2 separate regions of the Homo sapiens genome follow, and region 1 is linked to region 2. Evidence: fine-mapped expression QTL. Tissue or cell type: whole blood. Region 2 holds a variant in brackets; the other region holds the start of a gene. All regions are shown on one strand. Distances are from middle to middle.

Region 1 (8,068 bases), 330 kb after region 2:
GTGGCACTGGAGAGCCATGGCAGTCGTGAGATATTGTATGTGTATGCACATGATCATGTGTGTATGTGCGTGCGTGCGTGCGTGTGTGTGTGTGTGTGTGTTTCTGCCTCATTCAGTTTCTGGGGTCAAATCAGCTCCTTCTCTCCAAGTGCACTACCCTGGAGAGTGGTGGCCACTCAATACCTTTTCCTCTAGCTTTCATGTCTTGTTTTTGCTTTCCCCTTCCTCCTCCCTCTCTCCCTTTCTTTCCTTCTCTCCTTCTTTATTTGAGGGGGGAAGAGTGCTGTACAAAGTCAAACAAACAAGTTTACAGTTGTAAGTGCAATGACCCGAGTCCTCCACATGACCTTGTGAATTGTGTGCTGTCCTTCTGTGCTCTGTGAGAACTCGTGGTACTTCAGTGTCCCTCCCCCTGTATTGTGACAAGGTAATTCTGTGGTATCAGAATAAAAGGACTTGATATAAACAACCTACAGACTGTTTCTGGGATGGTTTCTCAAGTGGGAAGGCTTAGCTGAAGGAGCAAATCCCCAAATTTGCGACAATCCTGTCCATGGTTAAAGGGAAAAGGATGGACAAAGTTGCAGAAGTGCTGGCACAGCACGGGGCTGAGTCCACACCAAGCCATCCAAAGACAATGGGCCCTCCACAAAGGTGCCCAAGGGGAGGTCCCAAGCTTGGACCTGGAGCAGGCAGTCAGTGCGCAGGCTGTTGAGGGACAGCACCTCCATGGCCTTCAGGTGTGTTGGCTGCATACACAGCTTTCTGGGACCTGGTTCCAGGGAGGCAGTGAACAAGTGCTGCCCCCTGGTGCTGCCAACAAGCCCTACACCTCTCTGCCTTGCTCCGAATTTTCCAACCCCCAAACTCTCACCGGCTGCCAGACCTTAGGCCTTCCTCAGATGGTCAGGAGTACCTCCTTACCGAAGTCACCCAGAGTTGCTAGACCTTTTTTTTTTTTTTTTTTTTTTTTAACACAGATAAACAGGAATCCCAGCTTCACCTCTGGCCCTCTCCCCAGAATTAACATTTTGATGCGTGTCCTTCTTTCCTGTTTGTTGTTCCAGTCTTCATTTTAAACAGAAGCCAGAAGGTGCAATATATCCTGTTTTCTAGCTTTCTGTTTATTTCCACGTTTATTTCAGGTACTTAAATGTTCGTCTTCCAGTGCTCAACCTCCAGAGAGATACACCATTAGTTCATAGCCAGTCTACCACACACAATCTAAGGAACAGGCACTATGTTCCCAGTGTTCCTATTATAAACAATGCTTGATGAACATCCTATTTTCCAATCTTTCCACCCAAATTGGTGGCTGGGGCCACTCATTCTACTCCTGTTTCTGGCCTTGATACAGTCCTGTACATACTGACAAATGCAGTGGCGTCAGAAAGTTGGGACTCTTTTTTTTTTTTTTTCTTGAGACGGAGTTTCACTCTTGTTGCCCAGGCTGGAGTGCAGTGGCATGATCTCGGCTCACTGCAACCTCCACTTCCCAGGTTCAAGCGATTCTCCTGCCTCAGCCTCCCGAGTAGCTGGGATTACAGGCGCGTGCCACCCAGCCCGGCTAATTTTTGTATTTTTAGTAGAGACAGGGTTTCTCCATGTTGGCCAAGCTGATCCCGAACTCCTGGCCTCAGGTGATCCACCCGCCTCAGCCTCCCAAAGTGCTAGGATTATAGGCGTGAGCCACCGCGCCTGGCACTTTTTTTTTTTTTTTTTTAAGATGGACTCTGGCTGTCGCCCAGGATGGAGTGCAGTGGCGCGATCTCGGCTCACTGCAAGCTCCGCCTCCCGGGTTCACACCATTCTCCTGCCTCAGCCTCCCGAGTAACTGGGACTACAGGCGCCTGCCACCATGCCCAGCTAATTTTTTGTATTTTTAGTAGAGACAGGGTTTCACCGTGTTAGCCAGGATGGTCTCGATCTCCTGACCTCGTGATCCGCCCGCCTCGGCCTTCCAAAGTGCAGGGATTACAGGCGTGAGCCACCGCGCCCGGCCGGCCGGGACTTTTTTTTTTTTTTTTTTTTTTTTTTTTACTTAACTAGTTATCTTGAGTAAGTAATGATGCGGCTGATGGGAAAGGGGAAGCTACAGGCCAGACAAGTGGACTCTCAATCACAAGCACGCCATGGAGCAGGGAGCCAGGGCCCTGAATGTGGAAGACCAGCCAGACTCAGGTATATGGAGGGAACATCCTTACTGTCCAGCCTCTCCTGATCTCTGTTGGCACCTTAGCCCAGCCAATCCTGTACCACGTGCACAGGGAACCTGCCTGCCTAGGTTTTTTCCACAGGAAGCTCCCTGGTCCTGGGTGGAGTCTGAGCCCACCAGGCCTTTCACACCCAAGAGCTCAGGGTGAGGCCTGGGGAGGAAGGCAGGGACCCACCAGCTCACGGTCCCCAACAAGGTGCCACTGAGAAGGCTGGGTAAAGGCTGCGGGGATAGATAGCTCTTGCGGCAGGCCTGGCGACTGATAAGTCCGGGCAGCACCCTAAGAGTTGGCACCCGCCCCTCTGCCCCGCACCCCAGGGCTTTGCTTCGCGCCCTCCGCCCGGACCCTGGCCCTTCTCTTCTTCGTCTGCGTGGAACTCCCTCCAGGGCAGGGCCTGGCACTGTGTAGTGAATGTCGGCCTCGTGGTGGACCCGAAGGAACCCTACAGTCAGCCCCAGAGCCGCGGGAGATCCACGCTGCGGCCGGCTCCGCCCCGCCCAACCCTCACCCTCACGCTCACGCTCACGCTCACGCTCACGCTCACGCTCACAGGCTCCCGGCTCCACATTCCTCGCAGGGCTCCAATCCGGACCCGCCCGCCTTGCCCTTCATCCTCAAAGACTCATTGGTCCCATTCCCCTCGGGCCCCGCCCTTCGCGTGCTTGGGCCATGCCCGTCCGACCGCGCTGCTTCCGCCTTGCAGCACCCCCTCAACCCCTTCTCTCGTAGGCCCTTCTACCCTCCCCGAAGCCGGGCTCCCGGGTTCCGCTTCCACAGGGCCGCCCCCTCTCCTCCGAGATCCAACGCCTCGCCCCTCGGTAAGAGGCCCAGGACTCAGCCCACGGCCCCGCCCCCCACTTGGCTAGTCCGCCCCTGGCGAGACCCCTGCTCTCACCCACCCAGGACTTCTCGCTCCCAGGCCGGGTCCTCTCACCGTCAAGGCCCGCCCCCTGCCAACGGTCCTCACCCATTAGCCGAAGGCCCCGCCCCTCACAGATTGCCGCAGGGCAGGGGCGGAGACAGCCCGGGCCGTCCCAGGCTCCGCCCCCGGAAGCCTCACTTCCGGGCGCGAGCACGCCCCGCCTCGCCCCGGCGGCAGAGAGGAGACTATGGAACGTCAGGTGAGGGCTCGGCCCGCGGTCCCCGTGGTCCCTGCAGCCCGGGCCGGGCCTGACCCTGGTGTGTCCCCTGCGCAGGTGCTGCTGAGCGAGCCCGAGGAGGCGGCGGCTCTGTATCGGGGCCTTAGCCGCCAGCCCGCGCTGAGCGCCGCCTGCCTGGGCCCGGAGGTCACCACGCAGTACGGCGGCCAATACCGGACGGTGCACACTGGTGTGTGTGCGAAGGGGAACTGGCTGGCGACGGGGTCGCGCACTGGGGTGGGAAGGAAGGGGGTGTGGAGGGCTCGCTGCTTGACAGTGCGTAAGGGTATATAGGGAGCCGGCCTGGACTTGGAGGTTACACTCCCACAGGTCCCTGCACACAGGTGTGTGGAGGGGGGGAGGGGGCGTGCGGGGCGTTATCGAATGGCGGCCATGAGTGCACGAGATGACGGCGTAGGGGTAGAAGTCAAACCTGGGCTCAGGGCGTGGACCTTGTAGGGCTCTCCACCAACACGCCATCCCATACACATGCCAGGCTGCCCTCAAGATTCCAGGGTGGATGCTGGGGTTACTAGGGGGTTCTCTCAAAGAGGCTGTCAGCTCAGGCTCTGGAGGCCTGGACTAGGGTTGTGGCCAAGTGTTGTCCAGCCTGCAGCCAGGGTGTCAGTGTCTGGAGACAGATTGAGAGATTGGGGAAGATAGATCTAGGCCTTCCTGGGTCAGGTGGGGCTGGGGGCAGTAGCCAGGAGTAGCCAAGACAAGGTGAGCAGTCTCATGCCTCCCCTCACAGAGTGGACCCAGAGGGACCTGGAACGCATGGAGAACATTCGATTCTGCCGCCAATACCTGGTGTTCCATGACGGGGACTCAGTGGTGTTTGCAGGACCTGCAGGCAACAGTGTGGAGACCCGGGGGGAGTAAGTTTGAGGGAGGAAGCTTGTGGGCAAGGCCACAGCCGTCCGCAATGCAAGCCTTTTATGAATGCTCACCATGTGCCTAGAAGGGAGGCCAGCAGCCAGGTTCTTGCCCCCTTGGGAGCTCATTCAGTTTCTGGTGACATGGCCTGATAAGCACTGGAAGCTTGCTCCAAACTCAGCCTGGACTAGAGCCCATGGTGGCCTGGGGAGTTGCAGAGAGTAGAGTCTCTGCCTCAGGGAGGAAAGGCAAGGTGGGGCTAGAGGTGCTCCAGAAGCTGGTGTGGGGCCAGAGCCTCAAGAATCTCTCCTAAGAGGTGTGCCCAGTAGGGAGCAGGAAGGGGTTATTGCAAGATAATCCTGACCTGTGCTACCCCATGTCCACAGACTGCTGAGCAGAGAGTCTCCTTCAGGCACCATGAAAGCTGTGCTGCGCAAGGCTGGAGGCACGGGCCCTGGGGAAGAGAAGCAGTTCCTGGAGGTGAGTCTGCATGGGACCAGGTAGTGGGTGACAAGAGAGAGGCTCTGCCCCACAGATAAGGCTCTGTTAGCGGGCAAACAGCCTAATGCCCAGATGTCCTCAGGTCTGGGAGAAGAACCGGAAGCTCAAGAGCTTCAACCTGTCAGCGCTGGAGAAACATGGGCCTGTTTATGAGGATGGTGAGGCATCTGGCTGGTGAGCAGGCAGGGTGGACAGGAGGGGTAGCCGTAGCCCTGGGCCCCCCCTGATTGGCCCTCCCTGCACCCAGACTGCTTTGGCTGCCTGTCCTGGTCGCACTCGGAGACACACTTGTTGTATGTGGCAGAGAAGAAGCGCCCCAAGGCCGAGTCCTTCTTTCAGACCAAAGCCTTGGACGTCAGTGCCAGCGATGATGAGATAGCCAGGCTGAAGAAGCCAGACCAAGCCATCAAGGTGCTCGTGGTCAATCCACGAAGGCCCGGCAGGGCAGCCCTGGGGCTCAGTGTGCTCCCTTCCCATACTGTGCCTGTCAGACCTGGGGAGGCACTAGCTTTTAGGAAGCAGAGCAGGTCCTATAGACAGGCTGGGCATTGAGTATCTTGTGTTCTCAGGGGGATCAGTTTGTGTTTTATGAAGACTGGGGAGAAAACATGGTTTCCAAAAGCATCCCTGTGCTCTGCGTGCTGGATGTCGAGAGTGGCAACATCTCTGTGCTTGAGGGGGTCCCTGAGAATGTGTCCCCTGGACAGGTCAGCAGCAACAGCCTGTGTCCCCCCTGGAGTCTGGGACCCTTCTTGAGCTACCACCCCTTGCTCACTCCTGCCCTTTGATCCTGTTTACAGGCATTTTGGGCCCCTGGAGATGCTGGTGTGGTGTTTGTGGGCTGGTGGCATGAGCCCTTCCGGTTGGGCATCCGCTTTTGCACCAATCGCAGGTGAGGGAGTGGGGCAAGGCAAGGGGCCTTGCAGCCCAGCTGGCCTTGAGACTGAGTGTCTGTCTCGTGGTTCCAGGTCAGCCCTGTATTATGTGGACCTCATCGGGGGGAAGTGTGGTAAGTGGCTGATGCCCACCTGTGCTTTGCTGACACATGTTGGCCCTGCCAGCCTGCGTGATGCTCATGTTTCCATCTGGCCCAGAGCTCCTCTCGGATGACTCCCTGGCTGTCTCTTCTCCCCGGCTGAGCCCAGACCAATGTCGCATTGTCTACCTGCAGTACCCATCTCTGATCCCCCATCACCAATGCAGCCAGCTGTGCCTGGTGAGCTGGAGGTGGCAGGGATGGGAGGGTGGTCAGCAAGAAGATGGGATGGTGGATGAGAGCTGAAGGGCCAGTATCATCTCCCCATAGGCCCTCAGTAGGTGCCCTTCTGTCCTCAATGCAGCAGCGGTGTGAGTTCTGCCTGTCCTCTCAAGGAGGGCCTAGAGGTTGAGAGTGCTGCCATGGAGAGCTTTGCACTGTTGGGGCATTCCACCTTGAGAGAATGCTCGTCTGCAAGAATGCTCCTCCCCTTGGCTCTCAACTGCATGTAGCCAGGCTCTGCAAGGGGCTGGGATATAGTGGGGAGTTACACAATCCCAGACCCTCCCCAGGAAGAGCTCTGGGCCCCTGGTAAAAGTCAGAGGGACATGCCTATCTGAGGCCCCTTGGGCATCTGGTCCAGGTCACCAGAAAAGAGATACATCAGGCTTATTCCAGTTCCCCCATCTCCTGGGGCTACCTGAGGCAAAAGGGGATAGGCACAGGGCACTGTGCCCTAAGGGAACTGCCTGTCCCCTACTGGACCTGACCATTGTGTTCTCTTGCAGTATGACTGGTATACCAAGGTTACCTCAGTGGTGGTAGATGTTGTGCCTCGGCAGCTGGGAGGTAAGGCATACCTGGCTGGGTGGGTGCAGTGGGGCCTGTAGCTCTGCTTTCCTGCCGTCTGTTGCATCCCTGCCCCGTTCTTCTTTCCTAGGTTCCTTCTGAGGGCCCTACCTCCCTGCTGGGCCAGCCTTATGCCCAGCATCCTCAGGGAGCGGGGCTGTCACCATAGGGAGCGGGGCTGTCACCGTAGGGAACAGTTCAATAGCAAGGAGTGGTAGGACCAAGCTGAGATCAGAGTGGCCCAAGTTGATGATGTATTATTTCCTGTGCTGCAGGTCATAATTAGAGTTTTCTTATTTTTCCAATGGCTGGTTCAAACCAAAACCATGACTCCTTCAAGTGGGTCTCAGGAAGTGCACTAGGTTGGAATGTCACACTCGAGAGGCTCTGGACCCGAGGGCATGATATTATCCCATCCACCATCCTAACCCCAGCAACCTTTGTCCAGTCTAAGCCCTGAAGTCAGCTGGGTCTTCAGGAGGGTGGCTCTTGGCTGAGAGGCTCCCGTCTCGAGTGTTGATAGCTCTGCTTGGATCCTCCTGGACCATCTCAAGGATGAGTCTCTTGTTTTCTCAGGCCACCCGGTCAGTTCCAGGAGTTCAGTGGACAAGGGATAGCCTCTTTGTCTTCTCTTTGGGTTGCAGGGATGCAGTGGTGGGAACCTAGTATGAATCCCAGCTCTGCCCTAAATTAGCTGTGTCCTCAGACAGGGTCCTGGCCTCCCTGAGCTCCCATTTCTTCATGGAGGGGTGATTGTGTCTGCCTGCCTCATAGGATCATAGTGAGTGTTAAGTGAGTGATGATATTAAAGGGTAGGATTTACTGAGCCCCCTGTGCCAAGCGCTGTGCTAAGCACCACAGTGGAGATAAGACGGACAGATGATATCTTGGTTAAAGCACCTGGTACCTACCTGGGTTCAACTGGAATTACTCAGGAGAGCAAGTGCTTTTCCTCTGAGCACCCATGGTTTCTCTCTGGAGCTCTTGAGCTCTGCCTCTCTGGGTCCTCTCTGGGTCCCAAGAGGCCTCTGCCCCTCAGCCACCTACTCAGGCAGCTCCTCATCGCGTAGCGTGCCCCCATGTGTGCTACAAGCTGCAGGGGCCTGACTGGTGCCTGAGTAGGGCCCTGGGTGAATTCCCCAGTACCCTAGCCTTCCTTGTAGACTACCCTCCCTACCTCCACTCCTGGATGCAGCCTCAGCCCTCCTATCTTTACAGAGAACTTCTCTGGGATCTACTGCAGCCTTCTGCCTTTGGGATGCTGGTCAGCTGACAGCCAGAGAGTGGTCTTTGACTCGGCTCAGCGCAGCCGGCAGGTGAGGGACGCTGATTGTGTTGAGGGGCAGCCCCTGTGGTCAACCCCCAGGAGCCCTGGGGGTTGCATGTGCATGCCCCTGGGTGGAATGCCCAGCCACAAAGTCTCATCAGCCCCTTAAAACCCTGCCTGCCCATCCTGGACTCATTTCTCCTGGAGGGGACTGGCTGCCCTGGTGCACCACAGCAGAACTCAG
Region 2 (8,062 bases):
CAACTTCTGCCCTGTTCCCCAGGGCTCAAGCACTCTGTCCACCTCTGCCTCCCAAAGTGTTGAGATTACACGTGTGAGCCACCACGCTGAGCCGTTTTTTGTTTTGTTTTGTTTTTTGAGACAGAATCTCATTCTGTAGTCACAACTACTTAGGAGGCAAAAAAACCAGGGCCAGGCACGGCTCACTCCTGCAATCCCAGCACTTTGGTAGGCTGAGGTGGGCAGGTCACTTGAGGTCAGGAATTTGAGACCAGCCTGGCCAACCTAGTGAAACCCAGTCTCTACTAAAAACATAGAAATTAGCTGGGCATGGTGGTGCTCGCCTGTAATCCCAGCTACTTGGGAGGCTGAGGCAGGAGAATCACTTGAACCCAGGAGGCGGAGGTTGCCGTGAGCCAAGATCACGCCACTGCACTCTAGTCTGGGCAACAAGAGTGAAACTTCATCTCAAAAAAAGGAAAAAAAAATTTAAAAATTTAAAATAAAACAATTAGCCTGGCATGGTGACGTGCACCTGTAATCCCAGCTATTAAGTAGGCCAAGGTGGGAGGATCTTTTTAGCCCAGGAGTTTGAAGTTGCAGAGAGCTGTGATCCTATGATCGTGCCACTGCACTCCAGCCTGGGTGACAGAGCAAGATCCTGTCTCAAAAATAAAACAAAAAAGAGAACTGGAAACAATGAACATCTGCCTGCGTGTTCCTGTTGTGGTAGTGACCTAGGGACTTGGGAGGAAATGACAAGGGTGACTGATTCAGCTCAGAGACATCTTGGCACCAGAGCTGTGTTCTATGTTGAGCCACTTTATCCTAGAGAGAACCATAGGCCCGGTAGGACACCAAGATCCCAGAAGTGGACAATCCATCCATTACCAGAGGACCTTGGGCCACAAGAACAGAAGAGAAACCAGGAAGGGAGCTAGAAGAAAACCTGGCTTATTGGTCACATACTAGTTGATCTTGGACTGTGATGTCTAATTAAAGATTCATAATGTTGGCCGGGCGCGGTGGCTTACGCTTGTAATCCCAGCACTTTGGAAGGCCGAGAAGGGCGGATCACGAGGTCAGGAGATCGAGATCATCCTGGCTAACACAGTGAAACCCCGTCTCTACTAAAAATACAAAAAATTAGCCGGGCGTGGTGGTGGGTGCCTGTAGTCCCAGCTACTCAGGAGGCTGAGGCAGGAGAATGGCATGAACCCGGGAGGCGGAGCTGGCACTGAGCCAAGATTGCGCCACTGCACTCCAGCCTGGGTGACAGAGCGAGACCCTATCTCAAAAAAAAAAAAAAAAAAAAAGATTCATAATGTCAGGCCGGGCACGGTGGCTCACACCTGTAATCCCAGTACTTTGGGAGGCCGAGGCAGGTGGTTCACCTGAGGTCAGGAGTTTGAGACCAGCTTGACCAACATGGTGAAACCCCATCTCTATTGAAAATACAGAATTATCTGGGCATGGTAGTGCATTCCTGTAGCCCCACCTACTTGGGAGGCTGAGGCAAGAGAATAGTTTGAACCCAGGAGGCGGAGGTTGCAGTGAGCCAAGATTGCACCACTGCACTCCAGCCTGGGCAACAAGAGCGAAACTCCGTCTCAAAAAAAAAGATTAATAATGTCTGGGTGTGTGAACTTTATGCTTTTTTTTTTTTTTTTTTTTTGAAACAAGGTCTTAGTCTGTCACCCAGCCTGGAATGCAGTGGCGCAATCTCCGCTCACTGCCACCTCCGCCTCCTGGGTTCAAGGGATTCTCCTGCCTCAGCCTCCCTAGTAGCTGGGATTACAGGCACCGGCCACCACGCCCAGGTGATTTTTGTATTTTTAGTAGAAACGGGGTTTCACCATGTTGGCCAGGCTGTTCCTGAACTCCTGACCTCAGGTGATCCACCCGCCTCGGCCTCCCAAAGTGCTTGGATTACAGGCTTGAACTACCACGCCTGGCCTTTAAGCTTTATTTTATTCCAAATCATAAGGTTTTTGTCTTAGCTGCTACCACAGTTTTCTTTACACCTGATAGGACTTGGCTCTCCCAAGTTATTCTTGGTCCACACTTGGCCAGCACTAACAGAGCACACGTGGCAGTATTCACAAATATTAGACATATTTTAATTGGAGGTGGCAACAGGGGAGAAATATTTTTGGTTCCTTCTCACCTGTGCCTCCTTAACCTGCCCAGGGGACTGTGAAAAGAAAAAGATTCTAGAAGCACACTTTAGAAGAATTAAATGTCTTCTCAGTGATTTCTAACCTCTGTTATATAAGGATTAGGTTCTTGCAGAAGATAATAGAGGCAAAAAACTGAACAAGTCTCACAGAGAGGAAGTGGGATCACTTTTTTTATATGGAGGAGTTGTGCCAATGGACAGATTCCATTCTGGTTATGCCACTTGTGTTGATGGCCAGCCCTCTTCGGGCAGAGGGTGTGGCAGCCTGGGCCCAGGTGCCGCCAGTGTCTTGTCTTCCTCCTGTAATTCTATTACCATCACAGTCTTAACCATGAACCAGTATTTAACGTTAATTTGCGTGTATCCTTTGCCCTTTCCACAGTGCGAATTCTCAGTAGGCATTTCTTGCATAAATGAAAGAAAGAATGATCCGGCTATTAGTCATTTCTTCACTGGACTAATAGTACTTGAGTATTATGTGCTCATGGTCCCTACCCTCCAGGGTTCACAGTGTGGTTAGGGATGAAGGATGGTTACATATGTAATACAGTATTGTATGTTGTGTGGTAAAAGTGTCACAGGGGCCGGGTGCAGTGGCTCACGCCTGGAATCCCAGCACTTTGGGAGGCTGAGGTGGGCAGATCACGAGGTTAGGAGATCAAGACCGTCCTGGCTAACACCGTGAAACCCTATCTCTACTAAAAATACAAAAAAATTAGCCCGGTGTGGTGGTGGACACCTGTAGTCCCAGCTACTTGGGAGGCTGAGGCAGGAGAATGGTGTGAACCCGGGAGGCAGAGCTTGCAGTGAGCCGAGATCGAGCCACTGCACTCCAGCCTGGGCAACAGAGCAAAACTCTGCCTCAAAAAAAAAAAAGTGTCACAAGAACATGAAGGGTCATGCTTGCAGATACTTCCCTGGGAAGGAAACTTAAGCAACTAGTGTAGAAAGCAAAGGCATACTTAATATTCCTTTTGGCCTTTGGGGGTATATGATGACATCCACAAAGGATGCTCAGGAGACCAGGACTTTATTTTTTATTTTTATTTATTTTTTTAAGACAGAGTCTCACTCTGTCACCCAGGCTGGAGCACAGTGGCGCAATCTTGGCTCACTGTAAGCTCCGCCTCCCGGGTTCATGCCATTCTCCTGCCTCAGCCTCCTGAGTAGCTGGGACTACAGGCACCTGACACCACGCCCAGCTAATTTTTTTTTTTTTTTTGTATTTTTAGTAGAGATAGGGTTTCACTGTGTTAGCCAGGTTGGCCTTGA[A/T]CTCCTGACCTCATGATCTGCCCGCCTCGGCCTCCCAAAGTGCTGGGATTACAGGCGTGAGCCACCCCACACAGCCGACTTTATTTTTTTATTTATTTATTTTTTTTGAGACAGAGTCTCGCTCTGTTGCCCAGGCTGGAGTGCAGTGGCGCCATCTCTGCTCACTGCAAGCTCCGCCTCGCAGGCTCCTGCCATTCTCCTGCCTCAGCCTCCCGAGGAGCTGGGACTACAGGCTCCCGCCACCACGCCCGGCTCATTTTTTGTATTTTGTTTAGTAGAGATGGGGTTTCACCATGTTAGCCAAGATGGTCTCGATCTCCTGACCTGGTGATCTGCCGGCCTCAGCCTCTCAAAGTGCTGGGATTACAGGCGTGAGCCACCATGCCCGGCCTATTTTTTTTATTACTTTTTTTTGTGTGTGTTTGACAGAGTCTCACTTTGTCACGCAGGTTGTAGTGCAGTGGCACAATCTCGGCTCGCTGCAACCTCCACTTCCTGGGTTCAAGCAATTCTCATGCCTCGGCCTCCCCAGTAGCTGGGGACTACAGGCGTGCGCCACCACACACAGCTAATTTTTTTTTGTATTTTTTGTAGAGATGTGGTTTCGCCAGGCCAGGCGTGGTGGCTCACGCCTGTAACCCTATAACTTTGGGAGGATGAGGCGGGTGGATCACCTGAAGTCAGGAGTTCAAGACCAGCCTGGCCAACATAGTGAAATTCCATCTCTACTAAAAACACAAAAAATTAGCCAGGCATGGTGGCAGACGCCTGTAATCCCAGCTACTCAGGAGCCTGAGTCAGGAGAATCACTTGAACCTGGGAGGTGGAGGTTGCAGTGAGACGAGATCACACCACTGCACTCCAGCCTGTGCAACAAGAGCAAAACTCCAAAAAAAAAAAAGAAAAAGAAAAGAAAAAGATATGTGGTTTTGCCATGTTGGATGTTGGCCAGACTGGTCTTGAACTTCTTACCTCAGGTGATCCACCTGCCTCGGCCTCCCAAAGTGCTGGGATTATAGGCGTGAGCCACTGTACCTGGCATGAGACCTGGACTTTAGATTCACTCACATGTACATGCACACACACACAGTCATGTGCTGGGGACAAAGGTGACTGGGGTATTCTGCTGCAGGGAGATTTAGATTCCCTTCACTTGCTTCCCTATGAAGCCAGGTGGTCTTCAGAACTGTAGGACACCACTGAGGGTAAGCTACATGTGTTCCTGAATGCTGCTAGAGCTCTAGGAATTTGGATCAAGTGGGCTTGCTTTGTGGTCTCCTCTACTGGTCTTGAGGGCCACAATTACACTGGACCTGTGAGGGGCACTAAAAGTGGGTCTCCCAGGAGCCTCTGCGTCTCTTCACAGCCAAGATCAGGTCACCTGCCCTTACATTTACAACAGGTAAGGCTGGCTAGGAAAATATTCTGCCAGCCAGTTAGGGCCAACAAGTTGCCTAGCACCCCTGCCCAGTACACCACTGTCATGTCATGTCAGTCTCAATGCTTCTAGATGCAACTAACAGAATCCCCAGCAGCAATTGGCCCACCTATTTGGTGGTTCTTGTTTTTTCACATGACACGTCTGGAGTTGAGTTCTTGGGAAGGTCAAAGCTGAAAGACATCAGTTTGTTTATCTGGGGCCTTCTAGTTCTTTGCCTTCAAAGCTCCAACGTGGCTGCCTTGCTCCCAGAATTTTGGGTACCCTCAACAACACCCACCAGTGAGAAGGGAGAGAGGAAACAAGATCCTGTTTCCTGGGATCATGGGGGCTTTCCCAGGAGCCTCTGCATCTCTTCATAGCCAAGATTAGGTCACCTGCCCCTATCTTTACAGCAGGAAAGTAGATTCTGCCAGCCAGCCAGGAGGAAGGACTTGGGAATGGCTGTTGAGTAGAGATAAGCAATGTCTCTGTACACAGCCTCTCTGAGAGGCAGTGAGAATTACACCATTTCAGGGCCAAGGCCTATGAGACCTCATTTCTTGGACAAGGACTTCTGACATTTGTCCCCCTCAGCTCCCAATCAGTCAGTGTCTGATGTGAGGCAGATACCCATTAATCTCTGTGGCTGGCTGGAGCTGGGCTTTATTTCAGTGCCCGCCCAGGTGTGTCACACCTGTATGTGAATGCATACTCTTCCCGCTTACTTCGTGAGTGCAGTAACAAAAACATGTCAATTCAGAGTACTCTGATAGGGATCATGGCCTGCTCTTTATAAACCCATGCTGTGTTTTCTTGGGAAAAAAATTTTTTTTTTTTTTTGAGACAGGGTCTGTCTCTGTTGCCCAGGCTGGAGGGCAGTGGCACAATCTCAGCTCACTGCAACCTCCGCCTCCTGGGTTCAAGCGAGTCACCCACCTCAGCCTCCCAAGTAGCTGGGACTACAGGCACACGCCACCATGTGCGACTAATTTTGTTTCTGTTTTTGAGATGGAGTCTCACTCTGTCACCTAGACTGGAGTGCAGTGGCACAATCTTGGCTTCTGCAACCTCGATCTCCCAGGTTCAAGCAATTCTCCTACCTCAGCCTCCCAAGTAGCTGGGATTACAGGAGGGCACCACTATGCCCAGCTAATTTTTGTATTCTTAGTAGAGATAGGGTTTGACCATGTTGGCCAGGCTGATCTCAAACTCCTGACCTCAAATGATCCGCCCGCCTCACACTCGTCTAATTTTTGTATTTTTTGGTAGAGACAAGGTTTCACCATGTTGGCCAGGTTGGTTTTTTGGGGGGTTTTTTGTTTGTTTATTTTGAGACAGCCCAGGCTGGAGTCGCACAGGCTGGAGTGAAGTGGCACAATCTCAGTTCACTGCAGCCTTGACCCTCTGGGCTCAAGTGATTCCCCCCACCTCAGCCTCCTGAGTAGATGGGACTACAGGTACATGCAACCATGCCTGGCCCCTTGGGGAGATCTTTAGCCAGTACTTTTTACTCTATCTTATCCAAAAGTTAAAATGTAAGAGATTTATTAGACTTATCAGGCCAGGAATGCTTTTCTGAAAATAAACTTGTTTTATTTATTTTGAGACAGGGTCTCACTCTGTCTTCCAGGCTGGAGTACAGTGGCGCAATCAGCTCACTGCAGCCTCGATCTCCTGGGCTTAAGCAATGTTCTGACCTCAGCTGCCCAAGTAGCTGGCTGGTACCACAGTCATGTGCCACAAAGCTTGGCTCTTTTTTTTTTTTTTTTTTTTTTTGAGACAGAGTCTTGCTCTGTTACCCAGGCTGGAGTGCAGTGGCCCAATCTCAGCTCACTGCAACCTCCACCTCCCAGGTTTAAGCGATTCTCCTGCCTCAGCCTCTGGAGCAGCTGGGACTATAGGTGCACACCACCATGCCCAGCTTATTTTCGTATTTTTAGTAGAGACGGGGTTTCACCATATTGGCTGGACTCCTGACCTCATGATCCACCCGCCTTTTCCTCCCAAAGTGCTGGGATTACAAGCATGAGCCACCTTGCCTGGCCAGTATTTTTTTGTAGAAACAGTGTTTCGCCATGTTGCCCAGGCTGTTCTCAAACTCCTGAGCTCAAACAATCTGCCCACCTTAGCCTCCCAAAGTGCTTGGATTATAGGTGTGAGCCACTGCACTGAGCCTGAAAATAAACTTGTTTTAAATGTTGTTTTTAGGACTACGTTGAGTCAGAATAAGGAAGTCATTTGATCAACTGCTAATTGTGCAAGAAATGCCTGACCTAATTTTATCAGATTTAATGTTTGAAAAAAAACCCCAAAAGCAGCCCTTCTGTAAGAACTGCTGAAATGGAAGTTTCTGAACCTAGGTCAGTGGCCTAAATGCTGTATGTGTTTTCTGTGCAAGCAATGCTCTGCAGCCATTTCTGCTTTTAAAGCCAGGACTTCACATAGGCTGAATGTGATTTCTACTCTTTTACTTGTTTATTTGAGCTGCTGATTCACAATGGGGTGGGGTGGGTACCAGTCAGAGCAGCAGCAGTTGCATGGTTGAATGAAAAGAATGTGTATGTGTGAGAGTGTGTCTGTGTGTGTTGGGGGAAGACAGTGAAGTCTTAACTGGCTTTACTCTGAAACTTCCTGGAGAAGAGAGAGTTAGAAAGGACTGGCCGGGCATGGTGGCTCACGCCTGTAATCCCAGCACTTTGGGAGGCCCAGGTGGGTGGATCATTTGAAGTCAGGAGTCCAAGACCAGCCTGGCCAACATGGTGAAACCCTGCCTCTACTAAAAATACAAAAAAATTAGTCTCGGGTACTCAGGAGGCTGAGGCAGGAGAATTGCTTGAACCCGGGAGACAGGTTGGAGTGAGCTGAAATTGCACCACTGCATTCCAGCCTGGGCAATAGAGCGAGACTCCCTGTCAAAAAAAAAAAAAGAAAGAAATGACTTCTAGTTGAGAGAGGAGGCATACAGCTTAAAGTCTGAGGAGAAATGTTCTCCAGCCAGGATCAGGCATACTGGGAGTTCAGAAGTTCCCTTTACTGAAGCTGAGTAATTTCAGGGGAAACCAAAAAAAGTTCCCTTCACTCGTAGTCCAAGGCATAAACTGAGATGGTGGGGGTGGCATGGGGCAAGGAGGGGTCAATCACCAGGCATCCTGGAGAGAAGTTGGAGTTTATTGGAAAGTTCTGGGTTCCTATCCTGTAGCCTAACCAGAGAG

Evidence for each region. PIP is the estimated chance that this variant, and not a neighbour inherited with it, causes the effect.
Region 1: it holds the start of APEH, and the variant in region 2 is fine-mapped to the expression of APEH in whole blood (TOPMed, PIP above 0.99).

The regions. Positions count from the first base shown.
Region 1 is chr3:49,671,077-49,679,144 of GRCh38, forward strand. It overlaps APEH (acylaminoacyl-peptide hydrolase), which reads left to right and starts at 3,275. Exons shown (of 22, transcript NM_001640.4): 1 at 3,275-3,337; 2 at 3,413-3,545; 3 at 4,107-4,233; 4 at 4,618-4,711; 5 at 4,815-4,890; 6 at 4,980-5,143; 7 at 5,302-5,439; 8 at 5,533-5,624; 9 at 5,701-5,741; 10 at 5,827-5,948; 11 at 6,497-6,557; 12 at 7,776-7,873. The coding sequence starts at 3,326. BSN (bassoon presynaptic cytomatrix protein) reads left to right here. Exons shown (of 12, transcript NM_003458.4): 12 at 1-473. RefSeq lists a silencer at 2,960-3,569.
Region 2 is chr3:49,344,554-49,352,615 of GRCh38, forward strand. No RefSeq gene overlaps it. Among named protein-coding and RNA genes, the nearest start is that of USP4, 8.5 kb to the left of the region's middle. RefSeq lists enhancers at 862-981, 1,072-1,161, 5,249-5,393, 7,907-7,986, a silencer at 4,363-4,657 and a cis regulatory region at 5,313-5,330. The variant A/T (reference allele first, on the strand shown) is at 3,431.